Regions from separate parts of the Homo sapiens genome. Here all the other regions are linked to region 1. Evidence: fine-mapped QTL for protein levels in blood plasma. Region 1 holds a variant in brackets. A gene starts in each other region. All regions are shown on their forward strands.

Region 1 (4,283 bases):
AGACTATCTGTCGTCGAAGGGATCTTAGAGATCACCTGATCTAAGTCCCTGATACCACAGATGAAGCCCGGAGAGGAGAAGTGAATTCCCCAGAGTCACAGAGCTGGGTAATAGTGACAAAAGCTGGAACTTGAAGCTAGGTCTCTTGATTCAGAAAGCTTGGTACTCTGCCACATAACCACTGAATTCCTTTTACTTTCTCTCCAAATCACTCCATGAACCAAGAGAATTTTCTTGACTCAGTACTTTGGTGACCACAGTTATTTTAACTTCATTGCTCTGTCAACCTCAAGTGGGTTTCTGGCATTCCCAGTTCCTAATTCGGTTATGCAATCCATCAGCAAAATTTGACCAACGCAATTTAGCTTGGGTGAGAAAATGTTTAGGCACTTTCATCAATAGTTTTTTTTTTTTTAAGCTTGATGAGACCATTTGATCTGCTGCAGGTGAACCCAATGTACTAAAATAATTGTTAGGACATGTGCACGTTCCTTTTATAAAATGCCTCACATAACATACATCTCTGTGTGAATTTTAGCCTCGCTTTGTGGTAGGATGAACCTCTTTTTCTGACCAAAAAGTACATGCAAATTGGTTCACTTCCCATAAACTTGGGTTCCATCTAAACAAATTGGTTAATTAAATAAGTAACAAATGAATATCCAATTATACAAATATTCATCAGGGAGGGCCATCAGGGTGAGCTTTCGACGTGAATAAGCGTCTTAGAATTACTCAAAAAAGATAAGAGTGGTGCCAAGCTGGGGGATTCTATTTCACAAATATTTCCCTTTCATATCTCTGGTCTTTGTCAATCTCTTTGGAGTCACCAAGGCAGACAAGCAATTGACAGTTTCTTGCAGTAAATTATTTTGCCTGGAAATCCTGCATAGCAGGTATTGCCTGACTTAGCTGGAAATGATAAACTAGCAATGTTGCTATTCGAGTTGGGAGGACCTGAAGGAGCATAAAGCTACCTGCTGTGTTTTCATATCTCCTAAAGGGAGTGATAAAGAACTTCAGTTTAATGGAGGGGGTTGGGGACGGGGTGAAGAGAGCAAGAAGAACCAGACTTCTCCAAAGCCTTCCCTTTGGGTTAAACTACCCAGAGAAAAAGCCAAACCCAGCCTTGATCACAACTCCATTCTGCAGCAACATCTCCAAAGATATCACAGATCTACAAAGATCTGAGTTATAAAAATCTTTCCCTGGCTTCTCCTGGAATGTTCTGAACTGGCTTCTTAAGAAGTGTTCTCCTGTGTCTGGTGTGGGTGAATCTGACGTGGCTTCTTGTATTTGCCAGAGGTGAATGGACTGTGCCAAAATGACCCACATCCTTCCCAGGGGTTTGGTGGGTGCTGATACCTAAGGTACTGCAGGTATTTTAGTGTCCTGCTGCCTGTCTGGAGCCAGGTGGCCTCATTTAAAAATTCTTGAGCCTCATTCTGCACTAGCCCCCACCACCACCATCACCGCCACTAACCTCCTGGCATTCTTCCCTAGGGCACTGGGATTCAGGCTGAGACCTGCTTTCTTACAGAGATGTTTCCTTCCTATCTGGCATATCCAGGTAGAAATCACGTTTCATAATGTTTTTCTCCTTTTGTTCTCAGATGTTCTAAGTCGGCTCCCTGCAGCACATGTCAACATTAGAACACCTGGGGCAGAGCTGGCTCCCAGAACAAAAGGACACTGCCAACAAGCTTGCTTAGTGTTTCTCTGCAGTGGAAATCTTGGGACTGCGGCCTGCTTAGAAATACCCGAGATAATGCAGGGGAGAAAAAAAGTGCAAGGCTTCCTATTAGAACAAGATAGAAAACCACATAGATCGTTTTAAGGAAGCTGAGCTTTTGACTGGACATGAGGGGAAATGGCGTAGGGAAGGTGGCCTGTCACTGCCCCGCTTTTGTTGAGTGTACTTTGGGCTTTATTTCGTTGGTCACGATTGCAGCAGGTTCTGCTGCTGACCTTCTATCAAGATGGTCCCTGGGTAATGTGGGGTCCAGCATCAGCTCTTGAGGAAAGTGGAAAGGCTGCTGAGTGTATGCGCCACAAGAAGCCCCTCCCTCAGCTCTGTCTCTCAATCACTAAGAATGTTGATTCACTAAAGTCCAAACTTGCGCTGGCGCCATCTTGGCCTCTCATGCCCTCCCTGGTCTCTCTCCGTCACCTCCATAAAAAGCTACAAGTGAGTCAGCTGCAACGGGAAAAAGGAAAGAGGTGTGTTTCTGGCTCCCATACATATGACTCTGAGCAGAGAACAACTGCAAACAAAGCCTTAAACCTGAAACTCTAAAGGGCAGGGTGTGGGAAGGTTTGCGGCCCGGTGCGGGCAAGGTTGAAGTGGCATGTTCAGCAGGTTGGACATGTGTACTTTCCTTCCATTTAATAATTAGAAAGGAATGAACTCTCCCCACTGAACTGCGGCCCAGCTCTGGTGCTCCTCGTGGAAAATACCACTTAAGACAACACCAAGCTTCAAAGCCCTTGCATTTCCTGGCCAAGGATAAAGGGTTCCCTCTTTCCCTGCAGTGAGTCCTACCCCTCTGAACCCAGCGCCAGTTACTCATGTTCTAGAATGTTTATTAATTAAGTTTGGCTTCTCTGGTTGATTTTGCAGAAAG[A/AT]TTTTTTTTTTCACACTTTGAAATCAAGCATCTGCACATGGGTTGGTTGGCAGTCTGTTTGCAGACAAGGATGCAGAAAGAAAAGTCCTTGGACTCCATGCCGTGTTGTGTGGCTGCAGAACGCTGCCTCTAGTGCCATTCCTCAAGGTCTGCATAACTAGAAGAAGTTATCTGTGTTGTTAACAGGAGACAATATCACCCTGTCGTACCTCTGTGGAATGTTGCTAGGTAAGAAATGAGAATTGTTCATCCAGGCCTGCAGAGGCCTCTCATGAAGGACCGGCAGATATTTTGCAGGAATCCTGGATTGTTTCCCTTGATATGAGGCTTAAACATCTAGAAAAACATTATGAAATGTGATTTCAATCCACCTGGCAGTAAGGGACCCTGTGGTGTTAGGTTTTTAAAAACTCACACACACTTATAACCATGGAGACAAGTTTTAGCCTGTACCTTGGAGCCCCTAGTTAAATCCCAGGAGACAACGCAACAGAGAATGTGTAGGGTGGGATTCAGTGGACTCGAGTCAGACCACCCAGGTTCCAATCCCAGCTCCTTCACTTATTAATGCTAAGTAGGAGACAGCGACAAATTACTGAACCTCTTTGTGCTGTGGTTTCCTCATCCTTAAAAGGGGAACAATAGTAGTCCCTACCTCGCAGAGTTGCTACGAGGATTAAATTATATTTGTAAAGTGCTTAGAAGTGTGTCTGACACATAGTAAGCTCTATATAAGTGTTTGCTAAATAAATAAAGGTGTATGTTGCAATTGTATTAGTTTGTGAGGGCTTCTATAAGAAAGTACCACAGGCTGGGTGGCTAAAACAACAACAATTGATTGTCTCACAGTTCTCGAGGCTGGAAGTTCGAGATCAGGGTGTTGGCAGGGTTGGTTTCTCCTGCAGTCTCTCTCCTTGGCTTGTAGACGGCCACCTTCTCCCTGTGTCCTCACGTGGTCTTCCCTCTGTAGCTGTCTGTGTCCAAATTTCCTGTTCATAGAAGGACACCAGTAATATCAGATTAGGCCCTGCCGGAATGACCTCATTTTAATTTAATCACTCCTCTAAAGGCCCTATCTCCAAATACAGCCACATTCCGAAGTACTAGGGGGTAGGACTTCGACATAGGCATTTTGGGGGGTGGGTAATGCAATTCAGCCCATAGCAACACTTTTAACATGAGCTCCTCTGGCTCCAGGGGGACTGTGTGCAGCTGAGATAGACATGTGTAATGGCAACTACCAAACCACATGCAAGGAGGCTCTTCGATCTGTGTGAATCATCTTTCAGCCCTGGTATGTTCATCCATCAAACTCTTATTTTATACTATACTCACAGGCTGGGCCTCTTCTGGGGACTTTAGGAGCACATTTCTTTAATTGGTCAAGTCTTTCATTTTCAAGCTCTATTGGATTCTCCCTAGTCCCGGCGTCCTTTTGCTAAAATCTGTCTTTGATAGACTTTGAGTATGTTGCTCATCAATCAATCCTTCATCTTTCCAGAGTGTCTTGATTCTTTAAGACTGCTTGCACACAGACTCAACCTGTTCTGTTTTTTAACTAATTTGATAGTTTTGTTTCTAATTCTTCATGGCGTGCCTTAATGGGTGGGACAGAATGCTCTGTATCTCACCACGCATGCAAGAGTGTTAGCTTATGAA
Region 2 (4,283 bases), not on the chromosome of region 1:
TAATTTTTGTATTTTTAGTAGAGACAGGGTTTCACCATTTTGGTCAGGCTGGTCTCGAACTCCCAACCTCAGGTGATCCATCTGCCTTGGCCTCCCAAGGTGCTGGGATTACAGCCGTGAGCCACCGTGCCCCACCATCTCTCTATCTCTGTCTATCCTACTCTCTCATCTCTGTCTCTCTGTCTCTGTCTCTCATCTTCCCATCTGTGTCTCTCTTTCTCTGTCTTCCTCCCTTATCTCTGTCTCTGTGTCTCTCTCATTTCCCTATCTCTGTCTTCCTCTCTTATCTCTGTCCCTCTGTCTCTCTTCCTCTGTCTGTCTGCTCTCTGTGTTTCTCTTTCTGTTTCCATCATCTCCCTGTCTCTCTCTGTCTCTGTGTCCTCCTCCTCTCATCTCTGTCTCTGTCTCTCTCATTCCCCTGTCTCTCTCTGTCTCTATCATCTCCCTATCTATCTCTGTGTCCTCCTCCTCTCATCTCTGTCTCTCTCTGTGTTTCTGTCTCTGTCATCCCCCTTTCTCTGTCTCTGTCATCTCCCTGTCTCTCTATCTCTGTGTCCTCCTCCTCTCGTCTCTGTCTCTCTGCCTCTCTCATCTGTATCTCTCTCTGTCTCTGTCATCTCCCTGTCTCTGTCTCTCTCTATCTCTGTGTCCTCCTCTCATTTGTCTCTCTGCCTCTCTCATCTGTATCTCTGTCACTTTCTCTGTCATCTCCCTGTCTCTCTATCCCTCTATCTCTGTGTCCTCCTCTCATCTGTCTCTCTGCCTCTCTCATCTGTAGCTCTCTCTGTCTCTGTCATCTCCCTGTCTCTCTATCCCTCTATCTCTGTGTCCTCCTCTCATCTGTCTCTCTGACTCTCTCATCTTTGTCTCTGTCTCTGTCTCTGTCATCTCCCTGTCTATCTCCGTGTCCTCCTCCTCTCATCTCTGCCTTTCTCATCTCTGTGTCTCTCTCTGTGTTTCTGTCTCTGTCATGCCCCTTTCTCTGTCTGTCATCTCCCTGTCTCTATCTATCTCTGTGTCCTCCTCCTCTCATCTCTGTCTCTCTCATCTGTATCTCTCTCTGTCTCTGTCGTCTCCCTGTCTCTCTATCTCTTTGTCCTCTTCCTCTTGTCTTTCTCTCTGCCTCTCTCATCTGTGTCTCTCTCTGTCTCTGTCTCTGTCATCTCCCTGTCTCTGTCTCTCTCTCTCTGTGTCCTCCTCCTCTCGTCTCTTTCTCTCTGCCTCTTTCATCTGTGTCTCTGTGTCTCTCTGTCATCTCCCTGTCTATCTCTGTGTCCTCCTCCTCTCGTCTCTGTCTCTCTGCCTCTTTCATCTGTGTCTCTCTGTCTCTGTCTCTGTCATCTCCCTGTCTCTGTATCCCTCTATCTCTGTGTCCTCCTCTTCTTGTCTCTGTCTCTCTGCCTCTCTCATCTGTGTCTCTCTCTGTGTCTCTGTCTCTGTCATCTCCCTGTCTCTCTGTGTCTTCCTTCTGTCTTCTCTGTCTCTCTGCCTCTCTCCCCCATCTCTGCCTCTGTCTCCCTCCATGTCCCTGAGCCCCTGCCTGCCTGCCTGGGGTTTCCCCCGCTTCAGGGCAGCGGAAGGAAGGCCAGCAGGACATGCTGTGCTGGGAAAAGCCAGCAGGTCTCCACTTCTCCCTTTCACAGCCTCCTCCCCCGCCCCCACCCTCGGGGCCTTCCGAGCAGGGGTGGCCTGTGCTCCCCAGGGGGCTGGGGCTCCTCCACACCCTAATTCATCTCCCTAGCGGCCCCACGAGCCCCACCAGTGAGTCAGACCTGAAGGAAGTCGGGGAGGGGGCGGGCCTTGACCCTGGGCTGGGCTTTCCCCTGGGCAGGTCCCAAGTCCTCACCTCCCCTCTCAAGTCTCCCACGACGTTCCCACCCACTCCTGAGAGCAGAGCTGGCCGCAGCCATGACCCCGCAGCTTCTCCTGGCCCTTGTCCTCTGGGCCAGCTGCCCGCCCTGCAGTGGAAGGAAAGGTATGTGGGGCCCCTGGGGGACTGGGGGGCCCAGGCAGACGGACATGACACGAGGACTGGCCTCGGATCATGTCTGGGGTGGGAAATCACATCCTCCCGTGCCCAATGGTGGGATGGGGTTACCCTCCCATTGTACAGATGGAGGAACTGAGGCACAGAGAGGCAGAGTGCCACATTGGGGGTGGAAGGATGTCACCTTGTGGGTGATAGGGACTGGCAGTCACAGCTCAGAGGTATCCATAGAGCTACACAGACATAGCTACACAGACATGCGAATTTGAGTCACACTCATTCCTTTGGTTTCTTTTTGGTTTTGTTTTTTGAGACAGAGTCTCACTCTGTCGCCCAGGCTGGAGTACAGTGGCACCATCTCAGCTCACTGAAACCTCCATCTCCTGGGTTCAAGCGAGATTCTCCTCCCTCAGCCTCCCGAGTAGTTGGGATTACAGGTGCCCGCCACCATGCCCGGCTACTTTTTATATTTTTAGTAGAGATAGGGTTTTACCATGTTGGCCAGGGTGGTCTTGAACTCCTGACCTCAGGTGATCCACCCACCTCGGGCTCCCAAAGTGCTGGGATGACAGATGTGAGCCACCGCGCCCGGCCGACATTCATTCATTTTGCACTAGAGAACATCTCCATGTCCTTGAAGACAAAATGGTTACAGCAGGGCATGGTGGCTCATGCCTGTAATTCCAGCACTTTGGGAGGCCAGGGCGTGAGGATCGTGAGGCCAGGAATTCGAGACCAGCCTGGGCAACATAGTGAAACCGGACCCCACCAATCTGTACAAAAAATTAAAAAATTAGCTAGATGTGGTGGCACGTGCCTGTAGTCCCAGCTACTTGGGAGGCTGAGGTGGGAGGATAATTTGAGCCCAGGAATTGGAGGCTGCAGTGAGCTATGATTGTGCCACTGCATTCCAGCCTAGGTGACAGAGTGGGATACCTTGTCTCAAAATAATAATAATAATAATAATTTATAGGCTGGGTTTGGTGGCTCACGCCTGTAATTCCAGCACTTTGGGAGGCCAAGGCAGGTGGATCACCTGAGGTCAGGAGTTTGAGACCAGCCTGGCCAACATGGTGAAACTCCCTCTCTACTAAAAATACAAAAATTAGCCAAGCGTGGCAGTACATGCCTGTAATCCCAGCTACTCGGGAGGCTAAGAATCGCTTGAACCCGGGAGGCGGGGGTGGCAGTGAGCCGAGATCTCGCCACTGCACTCCAGCCTAGGCGACAGAGGGAGACTCCCTCTTTAAAAAAAAAAAACAATTACAAAAGAGAGAACACGGTAAAATCTCTCTCTCTTACCCGAGTTCCTCTCTGTAGATGCTTAAACCTCAGCTTCCCTATCTGGAAAATGGGCTAGTAGTCCTCACCTAGATGGATTGCAGTGGGGATAAAAGATGACAGATGACTTTTGTCCATGTACCTATTTATTCCGAAAGCCTTTATTAGGCACCTACCATGTACCTGGTGCTGGCTGGCAACGTGGCAGGAGCCCAGCGCACGGGAGGGCTATGACAATCTGGGGGTAAACCAGAAGCTCACTCTTTCTGTCTTCCTCCAGGGCCCCCAGCAGCTCTGACACTGCCCCGGGTGCAATGCCGAGCCTCTCGGTACCCGATCGCCGTGGATTGCTCCTGGACCCTGCCGCCTGCTCCAAACTCCACCAGCCCCGTGTCCTTCATTGCCACGTACAGGTCGGAGAGCCTGGAAGGGGGCCTCAGGGACACTGGACTTCCTGGAGAGCCCAGAACTCTGGCCCTGAGAGCCCTGGGGTCAGGAAAACTGGAGACCCCGACATCCTGAACCCCAGGCCTATGGAATTCTAGGGCGGCCCCGTCCAATAGAAATATACTTTCTGGGCCAGGCACAGTGGTGCATGCCTGTAATCCCAGCGCTTTGGGAGGCCGAGGTGGGCAGATTGCTTGAGGTCAGGAGTTTGAGACCAGCTTGGGCAACGTAGTGAGACACTGTCTCTACGAAAAATTTTAAAAATTGGTCAGGTGCAGTGGCTCATGCCTGTAATCCCAGCTACTCCGGAGGCTGAGGCAGGAGAATAGCTTGAACCCAGGAGGCGGAGGTTGCAGTGAGCCAAGATGGCACCATTGCACTCCAGCCTGGGCAACAGAGCAAGACTCCATCTCAAAAAAAAAAAAAAAAAACTACTTCCTGGGTTGGGCACAGTGGCACATGCCTGTAATCCCAGTACTTTGGGAGGCTGATGTGGGAGGATCACTTGAGGTCAGGAGTTTGAGTCCAGCTTGGGCAAAATAGTGAGACCCTGTCTCTAAAAACAATT
Region 3 (4,000 bases), not on the chromosome of region 1:
TGGGATTACAGGCATGAGCCACCACGCCTGGCAGTTTATTTATTTTTCTGAGACAGGGTTTCCCTCTGTTCTCCATCCTGGAGTCCAGGATCATAACTCACTGCAGCCTCCAACTCCTGAGCTCAAGCAATCCTCCCATGTCAGCCTCCTGAGTAGCTGGGACCAAAGGTGTACACCACCATGCCTGGCTAACTCTTAAATTTTTTTTTGTAGAGACAAAGTTTCACTATGTTGCCCAGACTGGTCTTGAACTCCTGGCCTCAAGCAGTCCTTCCACCTGGGCCTCCCAAAGTGCTGGGTTTATAGGTGTAAGTCACCATGCCTGTCTTTCATCTCTATGTCCAATGACATATTCAGCCTTATCCAGGTTCTATCCCCAATGCATCTCCAGCTCAATCTCCAGCCTCATCTTGCACCCTGGCCCCAGCCTATCACAAGCTTCCCGCCCCACTCCACCAGCCCTCACTCACAGAGAGGCGGCGCCAGGCCTGGAAGGTCAGGGAAACATCAGGGAGCTGCTCTCCCAGGGGCAGGAGGTACAGGTTCACTCCTGGCAGGTGAGATTCCGCCTGGGGGGCAAGGTCTGTTAGTGGGGGCCAGAAGGGATTGGGGGTCTGCCCATCTCCAGCGCCAGCTGCATTAGGGGGACTTACAAAGCGGTGGGCCTGGCCCCGAACCTCGGAGAGCAGCTTCCTGGCGAGATGCAGGCTGACTGTGAACTCCCTCCGCAGCTCCTGCAGGCTCAGCTGGGGCCTCCCTGGGGGCCTTGGGAATCCCCAGACACCAGCTTGAACCAGGAGCAAGGGAAGCAGCAACAGGCTGAGCCCTGGAGAGATGGGAAGAGGGTGGCAAGACAGGGAGAGAGCTTGAGAAGGAAGGGAACATGCCTTTTCTGAGCCTGTGCTAGCTGTGAGCACGGTGCAGGCACTTTGACCAGCATCATTCCTCTGCCTCCTCAAAACCACAATGGAGGCTGGGTGCGGTGACTCACACCTGTAATCCCAACAATTTAGGAGACCGAGGCGGGCGGATCACCTGAGGCCAGGAGTTCAAGACCAGCCTGGCCAACATGGCGAAACCCTGTCTCTACTAAAAATACAAAAATTAGTTGGGCGTGGTGGTGCATGCCTGTAATCCCAGCTACTCAGGAGGTTGAGGCAGGAGAATCGCTTGAACCTGGGAGGCAGAGGCTGCAGTGAGCTAACACCACTGTGCTCCAGCCTGGGCGACAGAGCCAGACTCTGTCTCAAAAAAACAAAACAAAACAAAACAAAACAAAACCCCACGATGCAGCCAGCACGGCCCCCATATGGCATCTCCGCATGGTGTGCCCACTTTTGCAAAAAGACCAGAAGCCTGATCCTTTTTTTTTTTTTTTGAAACAGAGTTCTGTTCTATCACCCAGCCTGGAGTGTAGTGGTGTGATCACAGCTCACTGTAGCCTTGAACTCCTAGGCTCAAGTGATCCTCTCGCCTCAGCCTCCCAAGTAGCTGGGATCACAGGGACACACCACTGTGCCTAACTGTTTCTATTTTTTTGTAGAGACAGGGTCTCACTATGTTGCCCAGGCTGGTCTTGAACTCCTGGCCTCAAGAGATCTTCCCGCCTCAGCCTCCCAAATTGCTGGGATCACAGGCATGAGCCACTGTGCCGGGACAGAGACTGGATTTTGACCCCCATAAACTCCCTTGGCCAAATGCCTTTTTCAGTGAGCAACCTGCACAACCACGTGTGGCAGCCTCAGTGCTATTGTTCTCCCCAATTTGCAGGTGAGGCTCAGTGAGGTTGACTTGCCCAAGGTCAAATAGCCAGAAGGTGGGAAGCCAGGACTGGATTCCAGGTTTTTCCAAATGCAGAGCCCATGGGTTTTCCCCAGAGAATGCAGAGGGAGGCAGCCATCTGCCCCAGGAGTGGGCACACCATGTTCTGGCAAGGATTCTTTGGGCTCAGCCAAGCGGCTCTGATGGCTTGAACTGGCCATGAGGTCCCCAGGGATGGGCTGGCAATGCCAGAGGCTCTATTCCAGGGAGTCAAAAGGACAGGTTTGTCCAGTTTCCACCACGGCAGGTGGATCCTAGCAGGGTAACCTGCCTGGGGCGAATCCACAGTATGGGAGCTTTTTTTTTTTTAAGACAGATTCTCACTCTGTCACCCAGGCTGCAGTGCAGTGGCGCGATCTCGACTCACTGCAACCTTCACCTCCCAGGTTAAAGCAATTCTCCTGCCTCAGCCTCCTGAGTAGCCACCACGCCTGGCTAATTTTTATTATATTTAGTAGAGAGGGGTTTTGCCGTGTTGGCCAGGCTGGTCTCCAACTCCTGACCTCAGGTGATCCGCCTGCCTTGGCCTCCCAAAGTGCTGGGATTACAGACATCAGCCACTGCGCCCAGCCCAGAATGGCTGAATTCCGAGTGTGCTTCCTGACCTGTGTTTTCCTGGAAAGAGGGGCAGCGGATGGGCGCTCTAGGAAGAGGGCAGCATTCATCAATTTCCCCCTCAGGGAGAGGAAATCTAGCAAGCACAAGAGTTACACAATTCTCCTCGAAACACAAACCAAAACTGGCCCGAAGTCCATCCTGCTCTCCCTTCTCTCCCTGCCTCTTCCCTGTCCTCTCTCAATCTCTAACCCCTGGGCTCTGCTCTTCGAAATGTCCCCTGATAAAGGTGAAGGGGAGCTTCTAGGGACATCTACCTCCCTCGTGGGCTTGCAGATGTGGTGGGCGATGCCTAACGTAAGATCTCTGGCATTCAGACTCCCTGGTTTTGGGGCCACTCGGACCCTCTGACATCCTGGAGACTTAAGGCAGAGTGGGGTTCTTCCTAGCTCAATGTTGGGGACAGGGTGGGTGCCCCCAGGCCCTGGTGGATCAAGCCCAACCGTAAGTGAGCTGTGCCATCTCCAACCTGACCTCTGGAGACCCCAGACCCCCTCCTTACCCTCTGCAGCTGATCCTGGGTCATTGGCTCTGGCCTTTGAAGGCTCTGTCTCCATCCTCCAGCCTTTGGTCCCTACCTGCCCTACGTGGCATGTTACCTTCTCCACTGCCTACTGCTCTGGTTCTAGCCCCTGAGTTCTGCAGCCACCAGCCGCAGATTGGACCTCTTTCCAACATCAAACTAAAGACCTTTGACCCAGTGAGGCTGCTGACATCTTGGTCCCAGTGCTCCACTTGTGCCAGCACCTCGTTCTGCTCTTCCTCCAGCCGGCCCCATTCTCAGTCTTAGCCAAGCTGTTTGGCTTCTGCTTATTCACTCCAAACTCTTCATTTATCTGCCTAGACCTGGTCCTTGTCAAATTGCTGGTCCAACCCTCCCCATTCCCACTAGCCAAGGCCTCCTTCTCATCCTCTGCCCAGCCCTGGGTCAGACCACCACCCCACTGCCCCAGGCCCCCACCCAGTCATGCCAGCCTCCCTTCCCATGCAGCAGCCAGCCGAATCCTCAGTCTTGGCCAAGTTGCTGCTCTCAGCTCTCGACCCCCCATCTGCACCAGCCAAGCTCGTCCATTCTCTGCCCAAACTCAACCAAGCCCCCCACCCCTGGCTTCAAACTCACGCCAGCCAAGGTCGCCTGCCGTCTGGCCCATGGCGGGGCCCAGCCTCTTTGGTCAGCCATCTCCTGGGTAGGGGGGGTCTTATACTGGGGGCTGTGCCCGGTTTCACTTTCCGTCCTGCTTGTACTTTCAGCTTTGTGTTCACTCATTCTTCCCTCTCGCCACCCCTTGCTAAAATGGGGAAATGTAATTTCCCTTCCCGGAGGGGGTGGGAGGTATGATGGGGGGTGACGGGAAGCTGGGGTTTCGGGACATCCAAGCTCCAGACTCACTGCTAAGCTCCCACGTCCAGCCCTGTCCTCAATGTCCCATGCTTGGGTGAGCCATCCAGCCCTATTCACTGGTTGATCCCAGAGTCCCAAACCCCCTCCTGATTCTCGGCTCTGCCACCATCATCCTAGGGTCTACTGTCCTTCCAAAGATGGATAGCCAGGTAAGGGGATTGC

Direction of the effects. Positions count from the first base shown, and alleles are read on the strand shown. Strength reflects both the effect of a copy and how common the allele is.
As copies of AT replace A in region 1, the plasma level of the protein whose gene starts at base 1,881 in region 2 goes up (weak association).
With allele A in place of AT in region 1, the plasma level of the protein whose gene starts at base 3,610 in region 3 is lower (weak association).

What was found. PIP is the chance, under the fine-mapping model, that this variant and not a neighbour inherited with it causes the effect. Protein levels are from antibody-based Olink assays in UK Biobank. Linkage for the fine-mapping came from a reference panel and not from the study's own genotypes, which makes the PIPs less certain.
Region 2: EBI3 starts here. The variant in region 1 is fine-mapped to the plasma level of the EBI3 protein (UK Biobank, PIP 0.98).
Region 3: it holds the start of IL27, and the variant in region 1 is fine-mapped to the plasma level of the IL27 protein (UK Biobank, PIP 0.98).

Annotation. Positions count from the first base shown.
Region 1 is chr3:12,227,794-12,232,076 of GRCh38, forward strand. No RefSeq gene overlaps it. Among named protein-coding and RNA genes, the nearest start is that of PPARG, 59 kb to the right of the region's middle. The variant A/AT (reference allele first, on the strand shown) is at 2,625.
Region 2 is chr19:4,227,643-4,231,925 of GRCh38, forward strand. It overlaps EBI3 (Epstein-Barr virus induced 3), which reads left to right and starts at 1,881. Exons shown (of 5, transcript NM_005755.3): 1 at 1,881-1,975; 2 at 3,549-3,681. The coding sequence starts at 1,909. RefSeq lists enhancers at 2,101-2,190, 3,154-3,655.
Region 3 is chr16:28,503,225-28,507,224 of GRCh38, forward strand. It overlaps IL27 (interleukin 27), which reads right to left and starts at 3,610. Exons shown (of 5, transcript NM_145659.3): 1 at 3,557-3,610; 2 at 654-826; 3 at 471-569. The coding sequence starts at 3,587.